Homo sapiens: one gene and its partner. The protein of the gene in region 1 purifies or fractionates together with the protein of each later gene. This does not show direct contact. Each region holds a gene or a part of one and is shown in the gene's direction. Other genes may lie near its edges. The genes, in order: TMEM106B and TMEM192.

Region 1 (8,534 bases):
TTCCAAGTACATATGTGCTAAATGATTTGATATTATCCTAAAGATATCAGATGCTCCCTTCCATTTGTCCTTGATTTTGCTCTTTATATTCAGTTTATATAATTTCTACTGACCGTCTCAAGTTTACAGGTTTTTTTCCCTCTGTTATGTCCAATTTGGTGATAATGCTAAAAAGTGAACTTTTTACTTCTAATATTTATTTCTAATATTTCAACTTGCTTTTTATAAATAGTTCCCATCTTTTTGCTAAAATTCCCTGTCTGTTCATGCATGTTTTCCATTTTTTATACAGATGCTTTAACATATCTATCAAAGTGATTTTAAAGTCTCTGCCAGATAATACCAAATCTGGGCCATTTCTGTATTTTCCCCTATTAATCATTTTCTCTCTTGACCATGGCTCACATTTTCTTGCTCCTTCATGTCTCATAATCTTTATTATATGCTAGATATTGTATAAAAGAAAACAGTAAATAACATGTACCTCAAAAAACATCTTGCCATTTTTTCTATCAAGATTATTGTTTGGAAGGCTGAATCAAATCTTTCAACAGTGAGTCAAAAACCCACATTCTGGGTTTTGTTGAAGTTTTGATTCAGTTTATTTACTATTGCTTTCAAATATGCTTGAGTTCTTGGCACTGGCAAAATCTCAAGATTAATGTGCACCTACTAGCTCATTCCACCAAACTATTCAATACTTTCTTAGCTCAAACACCTAGCTTCCAATATCTCCACAGGTTGTTCTGTTTACTCTCCAGTCTTGCCGGTCATTTCTGTGCCTCAGGAGAATCCTGGGCAGCCTGCCACCCTGCCTCCAGCCTTCACAGAGCTGCTGCAGTACACTGGTTAAAGGCCTAGAATCTGCAAAGAAATTTCTTCAGCATTCATGCCCTACCCCATGCCTTTAACATATGACATTTGAGCACTTAATGAAGACCTTTAGGAGAGAATTGGAGAGTGAGTGCACACTCGTTCTATCACTGGAACGACATGAGATTGTAATCTATCATCCTGGTCCACACACAGGGGTGTCATTCGGCAGGTCTCCCTTCGGCCCTGTTTATGGTGCATTCCTCCTTCTCCCACTGTTTTGTAGGTGATTAAAGCAACTCTAATTCTATTCTCTCTTAGGAAGCTCTCCTTATCTTTTGGATTTAAGTGTACTTAAATTTGCGTCCTCATTTCTTTGATAAGTTTTTTAAAAATGTTTAAAAAAAAAAAAACCTTCTCTAGCTTGTGTTTGTTGTGAAGAAACAGTCTTTTATAACATAAATCCTAATTGGACTCTGTGTTTTCCTTATTTTATATTCGGAACACCTCCTCAAGGATTTCTGGACCCAATTCTCCTCTTTTCAGCAGCAGTGATGATCACTTAGCAAAAGAGTGAAAATACCCTCTTTTCCCCCCCTAACCAGTTAACTTTACTCACCGTCATCACTTATCTTTGTGTAGTAAAAGTTGAGGACAGAATTCACTCTTCCAAATTTAATACAGATATTCATGCCACAGTGGTTAATAGCTGTAGCTTTGCAGTCAAAATATCCGAGTTCTAGTTGCTAGCTGTGTGGTCATGTGCAAGTCATAATACCTAGGATCCTCTATTTCCACTGTTTGAAATAAGATATGGGATAATAACAGAACCTAATCCATAGCATTTCTATAAAAATTAGATGATATAAACTACTTTACACAATGCCTGGCACAACAAATTCATTCATTGGCCAAGTGTTATTGAACTCCTAAAATTATTCTTACTAGAAATTATGATTATGACAAAAACCCTACAAAAGATGACTTGAATATTTGGGAAAGAAAGTTTTAACACATGGGAAAGATTAGCTCCATGCAGGTGTGAAGCAAGATGAATGAGACAGAGGAAATATAGAAGATCCTGCCTAAGAAGGAGTACAGAGACATAACCAAGAGTTTCAGATAGGTAAGTTATTTGCAGAAATTAATAAAGACCTCTGCTTTTAAAATAATTGGAATGACAAAGATGTGTCAATAGAGTCAGGAGTTTACTGCCTGTGAATGTAAGTCAGGTGGCACAGCGGGAAATGGTAGTTTTGCTAATGGTAGTTTTGCTATGTATCTGGGGCACTATCTCTGAAAATCAGCCAGACAAACTTCAATCTTTTCAATCCCTGGTTTCCAATGTAACCTATCCAGGTTTCTAACATAATCTGACCAGCATATCAGTGGAAGGGGGTGAGCTGAGAGAGACTTATATATTAACATTTGACAAATTATATGTTTCAAAATAATTATGTTCCTTTTCTGCTTATAATTTTTAACAGCTAATTTCTAGAAAAGTAATTTTTGCAAAATTTTTAGTTATGGCTGACTGCTATTAGGATTTGGGTGATTTACCATTAAAAGAGATAAAAGAGAATTGAAATGAGAGATAAGGCTGTTTTCAAGATTTAGTACAACCTAGAGAAATCCCTTAGCTTCAGCATCATACTAAATATAACCAGAAATCATTAAGAAAGAATGTTCTTCTATTCAAACTTATCCCAGACTGTTAAAATTACTGGCCTTTATATCTGATAGCACCTAGACCACTACTGAACTCGGAACTCAAGAAATCACTGTTAATCAAATAATTGGAAGCTTTTCAGAAAATTTTCCTTTCAAAATGTGCTTCAATGAAAAATAAGGCATAGGAACAAATGTACCAAACATTCAATATCTGTCTTTAAAGTACTTCCTTGTTATATGGATGATAAATTTGTAATCATAATATCTAATATTTACTGATTGCTCTGCAGGTATCAGCTCCCATCCATAACCCTTTGAGACAGACATTATTACTATCTTCATTTTGCAGATAATAAAAATTAGGTATAAAGAAGGCTAAGTATTTTGCCCACTCTTACAGAGATTTTGTATATCTCTGTCAGGCTGGGCTCATTTTCAGGCCATATGGCTCCCAAGGCTGTGTTCCCAACCCTGCTACTGAACTGCTTCTTACAGCAACATTCTCCCAGGAAGACTTATTCCTATGTGAATTCCAGGAATTTGGATAAGGAACTGTGCTATATGGCCAGCACGTTTTAAGTTAAATGATGAGGTTGAGAAAATACTAAATACTCCCTTAAGAATTAAAGAAAAAAGTAACTTTTTCACTTAAGAATAATATATATTACATTATAGAACCATTTGCCTATTTAACAATAATAAAGAAAAAACATCCATGCTCTCAAACTACAGGCAACTGTTTATATTTTGTATATTTCTTTCCATTTCAAGGCAGATATGTAATATATTTATATCTATATGTTATCTATATGTGAATATAGTTTACATCCTATTACAATACCTCATATCCTATACTTTGCATCCTGATTTTAATTTTATATCACTCCGCGTATAACAGCCTTATAAGATGGTTTTTACTGGCTTTATAAAAACTCAATAGATGGCTATTCCATAATTTTAAAAACTCAGTAATTCCAAGGGGAACATCATATCTCCACAGGTGGACTGTCAATAATTTTGAGAAAAATTTTCCCCCATGATTCTGATTTGTTTTAACCAACCTATTAATTTTGAAATTTCAAACAGTGTTAATGGAAGACACCCTGACCCTTCCCTTTGGAAAATATGGGCTAAATAAAAGCGGTTGAAAAATAATGATTTTATCAATGTCCCTTGTTGGACATTCAGTTTATTTAAATGGATACACCTCATACCCAAATCTTTTTAGAGTTCTCATTAGGTTTAGGATACTTCTGAAAGGGTGGAATTGCTGGACCAAACGATGTGAACATTTTAATAGTCTTGATACATACTGACTGTCTGCCAGAAAACTTAGGAGTTTTAAATCTCCGACAACATTGTATGAGAAAGCTCATTATCTCACATATGGATCTACAGTAATCCTCTTAAATTGTATATCGTTCTGACTTGTATTTCCTACTTTTACATAGCTTCATTTCCCAATTCCTGTTAGAATTCCCTGATTCTAACAGGATCACACTGATCCTGTTAGAAGAGAGAAATATATGACTCTCACTTCCTTGCTCCTGTGACTGTAAGAATGCCTACCATTCATTAAACGTTAAACTCTCCGCAGGAATGAGACTAGAGTGCCCTTAATATTATTACCGGCATCTCATTGATCCCTCAAAACGACTCCTTGTCGTTGTTCTTATCTTCTAAGTGAAATGACCTAGACGTTGGGGGAGGGCAGCCCCAACCCACAGCGAAGAGCTTAAGTACTGGGATCCGAGACGGGATTTCACACACCTGTAACTAGCACCAGAGTTAAGGGGTGGGGAGGGGCAGCGTGGGCAAAGCGAAACGAAACCGAGCAAAAACAAAAACTACGGCCTTGCCGCTTGCTGTCTCCTTCTAGTTGGCCAGTTTCTAAATTAAAATAGAGGTAGCTTTGCTGCTGTCAGCGGCGTGTGTACGGACCAGTTTATTCCATTCCTAAGGACCAGACTGTCAGCGACAACTCGCATTGCGTGAGCGAGGAGGCTGCTCAGCTGAAAGCTGAGGCAGATGGTGCACATTTATACCCTTTGCAAAAGGAAATGGTCTGATATGGGAAATAGGAGGAGCGACTGTTCCTAGGTAATTCGTGGCTACAGTGGACACTTTGAAGTCTGGGGGACGCGAAGGTAATGAAACCTGAAGAGCGCACAATCTCACACGATCGACGCCTCTGGGCTCAAACAGGAGGAAGAAGGACGCATGCGTCACGCGCACGCCAGGGGTGTCCCTCCGGGAGCGCTCTGCGCAGGCGCGGACGCAGGTTACAGCAGCGCTTGGCCTCTGCTGATGCCGTCGTTATCCTACCCCTCCCCCGTCCCAGCTCTACGGCGGCCGCGCGCTCCAGGCCGGTCGCTCCACCCCCCGGCTCCCGGGACTGTGGACTCCACGACCCTGTCCTCGGCCCTGTCCGCGCCGAAGCAGCCCGGGACTGCGCAGCGCCCCGCGTGCCGGTGAGCGACCCCGGACGTGCAGTCCCCAGGTCCCCTTCCGGAGCGAGGCTGAGCGGCTGCGCCGCGGCTTGAGCCGGGCCTGACAAGGAGGGGAGGCCGCTGGGGTGCTGGGCCAGCCGCAGGTACGGCGGCGGTCAGGGCTGGTGATCGAGTTGCTGTGTCGCCTCTAATGAGGCCCAGCCAGGGAACACTCGGCTTCGGCCCAAGCCCTACCTCTGGGTTGCCTCTAGGCCCTCACACCTTGAGCGCCAGGTGGCCCTCTTCCTTTTGCTGTTGATGAATGTTCTTGCCGTGGTGCCGGGATCTTATTTTGCAGCTTTACAGAGTAGGCTTTGTGCTAGGTGTTGTTTATGGAGCTTTTCAAAGGCGCTTGTTTCCTTAGTTCTCAAGCCCTTTTAGAACTAAAACCAGTGTCTACACAGAAGATCAGGAGCCATTTAAATTGGAGTGCTGTGATATATTTTTTCTCTCCAAACTGAGTCTGATATCCATGTTGACTTTCAGTAAACTAAGGAACCGCTATAATAAATAACACTGAGCCCACAGAGGTTGCAGAAGAGGGTCTAGCACCCCTTTTTTAAACCATTGAGTCTCCCAAGAATAAAAGTGGTTACACTTGTCAGTTCTCTAAGGAAAATCTAGTAGAGAAGGCAAGGGATTCCCAGTTTCTCACAGAGTCTGGCACTTGTCCAAACACCTACCCTAAAGCAGAATCGATCATGGCAGCTATTAGATTAGGACAGAAAACAGGCTCAAACGGAGAGCCACTTGAGTCTGCCTTTCTGTGTCTTTTTTCTCAACGCGCTCCAGTTAAGATGCAGCTTACAGCCTGGCTGTGTTGACTGAGATCCCAGAAAGAGTGCCCTTAAGGCCTTGCTGATAAGGCCCAATGATCCCAATTCATCTAGTGTTCCGCATAGACCCCAAGGTTACAGTGTGTGGGGACAGTGATGTTAAGTCTTCCCTATCCTACCTGTGGCTGACAGGTGTTGATTAAGACAATGATTTTTTAGAAGTCATAAATCATTTGTATTTTTGATGTGGGCAGTGATTTTTATAAATACATAGTTTTTTTTTTTTGAAAGAGTGAAAATCTCATTTTACATTTGTTTGCATACCATTTGTATAGTTTTTTAAATTCTGTTTATTTGAGTGACAGCAACAAGTGGATGGCATGCGAATTTTATTTATTTTTTTATCTTTGTATTTATTTTGTGTATATTCATGGAGTACAAGTGCCATTTGCTACATTGATACACAACATCCTGGTGAAGTCAGAGCCCTTAGTGCATCCAGCACTGGAGCAACACACATTGTACCCACCAAGCAGGCTCCTATCAGGCATGCCAGTTCTAGAAAGTAAAATTTTCTTCATACTCTAGGATGAACTGACTTACTTGGAATGTCTGTTTTGTTTAATCAAATAAGTGAGAATTTTTGAAAGAAATACTATCTGTCTGAATGTATGTAATCTATTTTTAGGAACCGCTAAAAGACATATCAAATTTAGAAGGAGTATAATTATGTTATTTTTCAGTTTTACTTTTTCACTTTATTTTTTCTCAGGATATAAGCAGGAAAATACCAGCAGGGTGTATTATATGACTGTTAAGTTCTTTTCAGCTTTAAAAGGGTATGACCTTAAGTATAAAGTTACTTCATTATCTACCTGCAGAAGTTATTTTTGTGTAGGCACTAGTACTAATTATTTATTTCTACTTAGATTTTTACATTTGTATTGTTATTTTGATACTCTTATCCTAAAATTTTTGAAGTTAGTGTTCTAAATTTTGCTGCTTTGTATTGGTAACTTATATTTAATATTTTGGAACATTGGCTTCATAATTTTAACTGTCAACTGTTGAATGAAAAAAAAACTGTGATTTTGGAATTTTGGGGCTTTTTATTGTTGTTGCGAGTGTTTAAATGTTTAAAGCAAGAAATTTAAGGATGGAAAAGAGTGGTGATTGTATTTATCACAAAGGTGCGTGAATTTTCAGAGGCTGAAACGTACTACTTTGAAGTTACTTGGTGATATACATCAAATACCTAGTTATCGTCTACCCAAAGCAATTTTTGCCTTTAGTGCTAACTAGTTAAAAGGTAGAATGTATTTTTATTTTATTTTAAGAAAAATGAAACCTGCATGTTTCTTTTCAGAGAACCTGCAGGTGTAGACTTTTGTCAAATGTTAATGTTTGAAAGCCCATTCTCATCATAAGCATGATAGGACATCATTTCACATTATTTGTTTAAAAAAACACTTCTGGACTCTAGTAAATGGCTCCTTTGTTTCAGACATTATTTTGATTGGATATAATCCTAATCCAAAAGGTATAATCCAAAAGGTAGTTTGAACATTCTCTTAATGTTTGTTCTGTAAACCAAAAATAAAATTCTGAGCCCCCCAACTAAGTGGAACCCGCTTCTCTGTCAAGGGCATTCCAAAGTAAACCTAAAAAGGTAGTTCAGGCCATGATGAAAAGGTGGGTGGAGGGGATTGAACATGCCCCGTTGTACCTTCCTCTCTTTGGAATTCAGGCACAACTGACCAGCATCAATTAAAACAGAGATTTGAAGACTAACAAGAGTCTCTTTGTAGCAATAAGATATCAAATCCCAACCTGACTCTAATATAGAATCACTCGACAGATAGCAGGCCCTGAGAGAAATTGAAATATCTTACCCCAAAATATATTTCTTTGAAATGGCCTTGCAAAGCTGTCTCTCGTGGGGAAGATCCACATTCTGTACAGAATCCCCTTTCCTTTCCAGATCTTTTCCTAATTCAGCAGCGATTTAACCAAGAGCCTGGAATATTTTAAGGAGTAATAAGAGACATTTACAAACTATTCTCTCTGAAGCCTGCTACCTGGAGGCATCATCTAGATAATCAGAACCTTGGCTTCCACATCCTCCTCCCTTGTCTTAACTACAAACATTTCTTTCTGCTGACTTCAACTCCTCAGGTAGAGTTTAACCGTTTCAACCAATTGCCATTAGGAAATCTTTAAATCCACCTATGCACCTATGACCTGGACACCCCCCAGCCTTCCACCCCTGCTTCAAAATGTCCTGCTTTTCTGGGCTGAATTAATGTATACCTTACATCTATTGATTTATGCCTCTGCCTGTAATTTCTGTCTCCAAAATGTATAATCAAGCTGTAACCCAACTACCTTGAGGACATTTTCTCAGGACCTGTTGAGACTGTGCCTCAGGCCTTGTTCACTCATTTTTGGCTCCGAATAAATCCCTTCAAATATTTTACAGAGTTTGACTGTTCCTTGACTGTTCTAAATTAATTAGTGTAAATATCTCAGAGTGTTCTTGAATGTACTTTTTTCCCTGAAGTTTACTGTAAGATTTTTATTTTTCTTTAGACATGGGAAAGTCTCTTTCTCATTTGCCTTTGCATTCAAGCAAAGAAGATGCTTATGATGGAGTCACATCTGAAAACATGAGGAATGGACTGGTTAATAGTGAAGTCCATAATGAAGATGGAAGAAATGGAGATGTCTCTCAGTTTCCATATGTGGAATTTACAGGAAGAGATAGTGTCACCTGCCCTACTTGTCA
Region 2 (8,092 bases), on another chromosome or scaffold:
AAGTGTTGGGATTACAGGCGTGAGCCACCGTGCCCGGCCTCATGATCTTTCTTTTACTGCTCATGGAAAGAGTTGGATTCACCCAACTGTTTTTTGTTCCATGACCACTCCTAGAGCAGAGGAGGAGGAAGGGTATTGAAGGATGGTTCCACTAAGACTTAATGCAGAAGTAGACAGTGGGTCCTCAAAGGAAATAGAGTTATTGTCACAGAAGAGAGAAGAGATACCATGTGGGCAAAAACAACAGACATCTTCTACAGGTGGTAATGTAGTTAATAATGGAAATGAAAAAATCATTTGGATTCAGGAGTCCTCTTCCCCTCACCCTTCACTTGCAGATGGTGAGTTAATAGAATGACTGGGTGCTGTTTGTATGGTTACACTGCATATTTCCTATAGGATTCAATGGAAAGTAAATACTCCTGAGTGACATAGAGAAGAACCATATTATAGTCCCCAACTCCTTCAGTGTAGTTAGGAAAAACAAAAGATACACCCATGAAAAGGAAAACAATACAAGGCAGCATAAGAAATATTCCAAATGAATATTATGGGCAATAAGTTTTATAGGATTTTAAAGCAGAAGGAAAACACTTAACAAGGCCAGTTTTATAGAGAACATAAACTTGGTTAGGACCTTGAAAGATGCATAGAATTCTGAAAAAGGTAAGGGAGGATATTTGTAGGGCTCTATAGAAAGCTCATTTAGGCGAGAGAAGAAGGTGCATGAAAGTGACATATTAGGAGATAAAGTAGATTATTGTCTTATAGTGAAGTTTTCAATGCTAGCTTTGTTTAAATGTCCCAGGTCTGGCCAGGTGCGGTGGCTCACGCCTGTAATCCCAGCACTTTGGGAGGCTGAGGCGGGTGGATCACCTGAGGTCAGAAGTTTGAGACCAGCCTGGCCAACATGGCGAAACCCGGTATCTACTAAAAATATAAAAATTACCTGGGCATGGTGGCACATGCCTGTAATCCCAGCCTGTGGTCAGGAGGCTGAGGCAGGAGAATTGCTTGAACCTGGGAGGCAGAGGTTGCAGTGAGCCAAGATCACACCATTGCACTCCAATCTGGGCAACAAGAGCGAAATTCTGTCTCAAAAGTAAATAAATAAATAAATAAATAAAAATTTCCCAGGTCTGAAGCATACAAGAAGTTGAGCAGTCTTTCTTTCTCTCAACACGCATATTGAACACCTTAGCATCTGCTGTGTATCAAGTGTTAAAAGCACAAAGGACATAATATAAAAGAGTCTCTGCCCTTGTAAAGCACATTTTATTCTGACAATTTCAATGCCATGTGCTTAGTATGGTAGGTTATGATACAGATACAGATGTAAGAGAGTTCAGTAGGGACTTCCATTCCCAGCCAACATGGAGTAACTGGGAATAGATATACCATTCTGCCTGAAACAACCAAAAAGCTAGATATAACGTATGATACAACACTTTGTGAGATACCGGACATCAGACAATGAAGGGTAGCAATCTCAGAGATGGGAAACAAATGCTGTGAACCCTATCACTGCTCCGGCTTACTGCCTTGAAAGAGTGTGCAGGCTGTGACAGGGAAGGGGGAAGCCAGGCAGAGCCCAGCAGACTTCTGAGTTGAGGAGATGGAGTTGAGGGTCTAGGAGATCGAGGTAACTGGAGTTCACAAGACAGAGCACCCAGAGAGGAGAGAGCTACAAAGAGGGAGAACTCTGAAGATATGCACGGGGAGCCCCCTGGCCCTGCGCCTACCAGGCATCCAGTAGAGTGCTAATCAGGGCATGAGGAAGCTCTTGGAGGCCTCATAAAGAACCACCTAAAAGGATTGGAAGGAACAGTTTCTCCATACAGGGCCAAGAATACTGCCTATTTCACCCACAAGCCAGACGGAACCCTCATAATTCACAGAGCATGTAGGTAGAGTACTCAGAAAGGTCTTGCCTCAGTAGTGGAGGCCTTAGATTAGCCTTAGATGAAGCCCACCTAATTTCTTAACAGCAAGACTGTTTCCAAGTAACTTGACTGCACTCCAGAACAAAGTTCACGAATATAGGATTACAGAAAATGGCCGGGTGCGGTGGCTCATGCCTGTAATCCCGGCACTTTGAGAGGCTGAGGCGAGCGGATCACGAGGTCAGGAGATCGAGACCATCCTGGTTAACATGGTGGAACCCTGTCTCTACTAAAAGTACAAAAAATTAGCCGGGCGTGGTGCTGGGTGCCTGTATCCCAGCTACTTGGGAGGCTGAGGCAGGAGAATGGTGTGAACGCAGGAGGCAGAGCTTGCAGTGAGCCGAGATCATGCCACTGCACTCCAACCTGGGTGACAGAGCAAGACTACATCTCCAAAAAAAAAAAAAAAAAAAAAAAAAAAGGGAATACAGAAAATACCCAGCACCCACAGAGGTAAAATTTGCAATATCTGGCATCCAATAAAAAATGACAAGGCATGCTAAGAGGCAGGAAAATGTGAGCTGTACTGAGTCCACTGAAACTGATTCAGACATGACATAGGCTAGAAATAGCATGTGAACATTAAACATTATTATAAATGTCTTCTATATATTTAGAAGTTACATAGAGACATGGAAGATACAAAGTAGACCCAGCTCAAACTTGTACAGATGAAAACTACAATGTCAGATTAAGAGTGCAGTAGGAATGATGCTGGGGCTGGGAATGCTAAAAAGGCACCGCAGAGAAGGCGGTTTTGCTGGGACAAGCATTTGACAGGTGGGGAAGAATAAGTAGAGCTGGTGTAGAGATGGAAAGTGTTTCATGAAAGACGGGTATCATAAGCAGACGGCACCAGGAGGGAGGGAAATGGTGAGAGGCAAATCCTTGGCCAGGCGTGGTGGCTTATGCCTGTAATCCCAGCACTTTGGGAGGCCAAGGTGGGTGGATTGCTTGAGTTTTGGAGTTCAAGACCAGCCTGGGCAACATGGTGAAATCTCACCTTTACTAAAAATACAAAAATTAGCCAAGCATAGTGGAGTGTGCCTCTGGTCCCAGCTACTCGTGAGACTGAGGTAGGAGGATTTCTTGAGCCTGGGGAGGGGGGCACGGAGGCTGCAGTGAGCCGAGATCGTGCCACTGTTCTCCAGCCTGGGTGACAGAGTGAGACCCTGTTTTTTTTTTTGTTTTTGTTTTTGTTTTAAAAAAAAAGGTTGGGTACAGTGGTTCACACCTGTAATCCCAGCACTTTGGGAGGCTGAGGGTGGACCACTTGAGGTCAGGAGTTTGAGACCAGCATGGCCAACATGGTGAAACCCCGTCTCTATTAAAAATACAAAAACTAGCTGGACAAGGTGTCGGGCACTTGTAATTCCAGCTACTTGGGAGGCTGAGGCAGGAGAATTGTTTGAACCCAGGAAGCAGAGGTTGCAGTGAGCTGAGATCATGCCATTGCACTCCAGCCTGGGGGACAGAGCAAGACTCTGTCTCAAAAAAAGAAAAAAAAAAGAGAGAAAAAAAATCCTGAGAAGTTACTTGGGGACAGATTGTAAAGCGATAGACTAAGAATTTGGACTTTGTCCTGAGGATTTGGGGATCGTATTAGGATTATCCAGAGGGACAGAACCAATAGGATATATGTATATATAAAAAGGGGGTTTATTAGGGAGAATTAGCTCACAAGATTACACAGTGAAGTCCCATGATAGGCCACCTGCAAGCTGGGGAAAGGGAAGGTGGTAGTGGCTCAGTCCAAGTTCAAAAGCCTCAAAACCAGGGAAGCCAACAGCGCAGCCTTCAGTCGGCAGCCGAAGGCCTGAGAGCCCCAGGCAAGCTGCTGGTGCAGGTTTCAGAGTCCAAAGGCCGAAGAATCTGGAGTCTGATGTCCAAAGGCAGGAATTAAGGAGGCAAGCATCTGACGCAGGAAAGAGAGAGCCAGAAAACTCAGCAAGCTGCTTATACGCCTATTCTGTGCTTTGTTCTAGCTGCATTGGCAGCTGATTGGATGGTGCTTGCCCATATTGAGGGTGGGTCTTCCTCTCCCAGTCCACTGACTCAAATGTTTGGCTCCTCACAGACGATACTTTGCCATCCATTTGACACTTAATATTGACCATCATAGGGAGCTACCCAAAGTTTTTGAGGAGAGAAACACGAATGTTTGTCTTGGAGCAGTGAAAGAGATTGCCAAGACCAGAAGACTGGAAGCTTCTAATAAAAGGCCATGAGAAATGGGAGGGCCTGGACTAAGATAGTGAGAATAGAGAGGAAATAACAGGTTTAGGAGTTAGAATGGTAATGATTTTTTCTCTTTTTATCATGCCCCAGCACTGAGTGGATAGAATGGTAATGATTATAGGGGTAGTGTCTTTGTTTGGGTTGCTATAGTAAAATACAAATAGGGTAATTTACAAATAGAAATGTATTGACCACAGTTCTAGAGGACAGGAAGTCCAAGATTAAGGCAGCCACGGATTCAGGAAGCCCAAGATCAAGGTGCCAAGAGCCCTGGGGAGGGGTTGCTCTCTGCTTCAAAGATGGCGCCTTCTTGCTGCATCCTCACGCAGTGGAAGGTGGAAGGGAGCTCATTCAAGCCTCTTTTATAAGGGCACTGATCTCATTTATGAGGGGGGGAACCCTCATGGCTTAATTACTTCCCAAAGGAAAGCAGGGAACTATTGGGGGACACCAACATTTAGACCATAGCGGGGTGCAAGTCAAAAGTAAGAGTTAATAAAAAGGCCAAGTGTGGTGGCTCACACCTGTAATCCTAGCACACTGGGAGTGCACTTGGGAGGATTGCTTGAGGCTAAGAGTTCAAGACCAACCTGGCCAACATAGCGAGACCCTGTTGATTTTTATTTTAAAATTTAAAAAATATTAAAAAGAGAAAAGAGTTAATAAAGAAATAATAGTGGCTAATACTTATTGAGTGCTCTCTGTGCGTCAGGCAGTGTCATGAGGACTTGCATGTGTAGTGACTCATTTAGTATTCCTGACAGAGCTACGAAGCAGGTGCTATTATTAGTCTCCTTTTTAGATGTGGAAACTGAGGCATGAGAGATGAAGTAACTTGCTCTCAGCTAGAAAGCGGTAAAACTTGTGCTTGAATCCAGGCAGTTTGCCCTTAGGAGCCTGACCTTAACCACAGCTCTTACTGCCTTTGGTCACAGTTGATCCCCCGTATGTCCTGATAATCTCTTCTAATTAGCCCAGGTCTTTGATGATGCCCATAATTGAATTAGAAAATACTGCAGAAACAGGTTTGGGGCACTCATTCATTCATCTAGCAAATGTTTGCTGAGTGACAACCATGAGATAGTGTTGAGTGCTGGGATTACAAAGACAAGAGGTGTAAAGGTAATGGGTCCAATGACGTCTAGTGGAGAAGAGATAAGTAAGAGACCATCACAGGATAGTTTGATAGAAGAGGCAAGCACAGAATGCTTTGAAAAACATGGAGGGTGGCACAATCCAGATTAGGGGTATCCAGAAAGGCCCTGTGGTGGGAATTGCCCCTTCTGAGCATGAAAGAATGCACAGACATTAGCTAAGGGAAGAGCAGATCTCAAGGCTCCAACATCTGCTGACTGAGAATGAGCTAGAGGCAGAGGGGTCTTGAAGAGAACAGGAGTAATCTGAATTGTACCATGAGTTATGGTAAACTAAACAGGAAGCAATCTAGGCATTGAATAAAAGACTTGGCCAGGCGCGGTGGCTCATGCCTGTAATCCCAGCACTTTGGGAGGCTGAGGCAGGCGGATCACCTGGGGTTGGGAGTTTGAGACCAGTTTGGCTAACATGGCGAAACCCCATCTCTACTAAAAATACAAAAATTAGCCGGGCATAGTGGCGCGTGCCTTTAATCCTAGCTACTCAGGAGGCTGAGACAGGAGAATCGATTGAACCCAGGGGGCAGAAGTTGCAATGAGCCGAGATTGAGCCACTGCACTCCAGCCTCGGCGACAGAGCGAGATTCCATCTCAAAAACAAACAAACAAACAAAACAACAAAAACAGTTGCAGAGCAGTGTTGAATACCTGCTACTGGAAATTGAGGAGCCCACTCCAGAGCTAGGTTACACCCTAGATTACTGTCCTTATCTTTGTAATCTTAGCAATCAACAGCCATCTCTTACATCATTTGTCCTACTACCTACTTCCAAAATAAAGAGCTCTCATTCTGTGTAGCCAAAACCTATTCATGAATCCTTCATTTCTGTCTCATTGTAGTGCAGTTAGCTGACCTAAATTTTTTGGCATTGTCTTCTATGCTTTTCATTTGCTGATTTGTTATGTGCTTCCCATGAACCATATTCTTTTTTTCTTTTTTTTAACATGTGATGAGAACACTTAAGATCTACACTCTTAGCAAATTAAAAGTATATACAATGCAGTATATATCCATATTTTTGAGACGAAGTCTCTCTGTCGCCCAGGCTGGAGTGCAGTGGCGCAATCTCGGCTCACTGCAACCTCCACCTCCTGGGTCCAAGTGATTCTCCTGCCTCAGCCTCCCGAGTAGCTGGAATTGCAGCTTGCGGCCAAGAGTTCAAGACTAGCCTGGGGCCGGGCACTGTGGCTAATGCCTGTAATCCCACCACTTTGGGAGGCCGAGGTGGGTAGATCACCTGAGGTCAGGAGTTTGAGACCAGCATGGCCAACACAGTGAAACCCTCCCTCTACTGAAAATACAAAAATTAGCTGGATGTGTGCCGGGCACGGTGGCTCATGCCTGTAATCCCAGCACTTTGGGAGGCCGAGGCAGGCGGATCACCTGAGGTCAGGAGTTCGCGACCAGCCTGACCAACATAGAGAAACCCCATCTCTACTAAAAATTAAAAATAAAAAATTAGCCGGGTGTGGTGGTGCATGCCTGTAATCCCAGCTACCCCAGGAGGCTGAGGCAGGAGAATTGCTGGAACCCGGGAGGTGGAGGTTTCGGCGAGCCAAGGTTGTGCCAGTGCACTCCAGCCTGGGCAACAAGAGTGAAACTCTATCTCAAAAAAAAAAAAAAAAAAAATTAGCTGGGTGTGGTGGTGCACACCTGTAGTCCCAGCTACTCAGGAGGCTGAGGCAGGAGAATTGCTCGAACCTGGGAGGCAGAGGTTGCAGTGAGCCAAGATTGCGCCGCTGCACTCCAGCCTGGGCAACAGAGCGAGACTGTCTCAAAAACAAAAAACAAAACACAAACAAACAAGACCAGCCTGGGCAACATAGTGAGACCGTGTTGCTACAGTTTTTAAAAAATTAATTAATTTTTTAATTAATTAAATTAAATTAATAATTAATTTTTAAAAAATTGGATTCAGGTAGGCAATGTGTTCTCTTGCCTTTAATTTGTATGTGGTTAAAAAGCTCTGTAGTTTAGTAGATTTGTCTTAGAAACATAATCTAGAAAGTGGTGATTATAGGTTGCTTGTTTTTCTGCACCCCAGGGTTCCTTGGATATCACCCAGAGTATTGAAGACGACCCACTTCTGGATGCCCAGCTTCTCCCACACCACTCATTACAAGCTCACTTTAGACCCCGATTCCATCCTCTTCCTACAGTCATCATAGTGAATCTTCTGTGGTTTATTCATGTAAGTTGGCTGCAAGAAGGGGACCTATCCAGAGGTGATGTTTGTAAAAATTATATAAGTGTTTCAGAGGGCAGTTGTGCTGTATCTATCAACATTTAAAATGTAGGGCACATGTTCTTAGGACATCCTGAGTGCTGTGTCATGGGCAAAAAAAAAAAAAAAAAAGTACGTACACTTTTACTTATATCTTCAAATAATTCATTGTGGATATATTTGCACACATGTAAAGATATTGTTGATAATAGCCATGTTGTCTGTCATATCAAGAGACTACAAACTACCTGGCTACTTGGCATCCAGAAGACACTGTGTGTCCCATTCATATAAGGAAATGCTATGCAACTGTTAAGAATGGGGTGGATAGGTATACAGTATATTAACATAGAATAGCCTTCATGATTACATTGTCGAGTGAAAAAAAATCAAGTTTTCAACCTTGTGTACAGAATGTTCCTATCTGCAGTTTTTAAAAGGGAGTTGAGAGGGCTGTTGTGGACCTGTTTTCCTGTATATAATAGAATATTTCTAGAAGCATTCACAGACCTAGTTGCCTCTGAAATGAGGA

The links.
Region 2: the proteins of TMEM106B (region 1) and TMEM192 purify together in Homo sapiens (affinity purification with mass spectrometry; 2 studies listed by BioGRID and IntAct, with this or other methods). This does not show direct contact.

What each region holds. Positions count from the first base shown.
Region 1 is NC_000007.14:12,206,471-12,215,004, forward strand, and holds the start of TMEM106B (transmembrane protein 106B), read left to right. Parts: upstream 1-4,823; 5' UTR 4,824-4,955; intron 4,956-7,730; exon of another isoform or gene 7,731-7,924; intron 7,925-8,338; 5' UTR 8,339-8,340; coding exon 8,341-8,534. UniProt on the Homo sapiens protein: In neurons, involved in the transport of late endosomes/lysosomes. May be involved in dendrite morphogenesis and maintenance by regulating lysosomal trafficking.
Region 2 is NC_000004.12:165,102,385-165,110,476, reverse strand, and holds part of TMEM192 (transmembrane protein 192), read left to right. Parts: intron 1-7,380; coding exon 7,381-7,527; intron 7,528-8,092.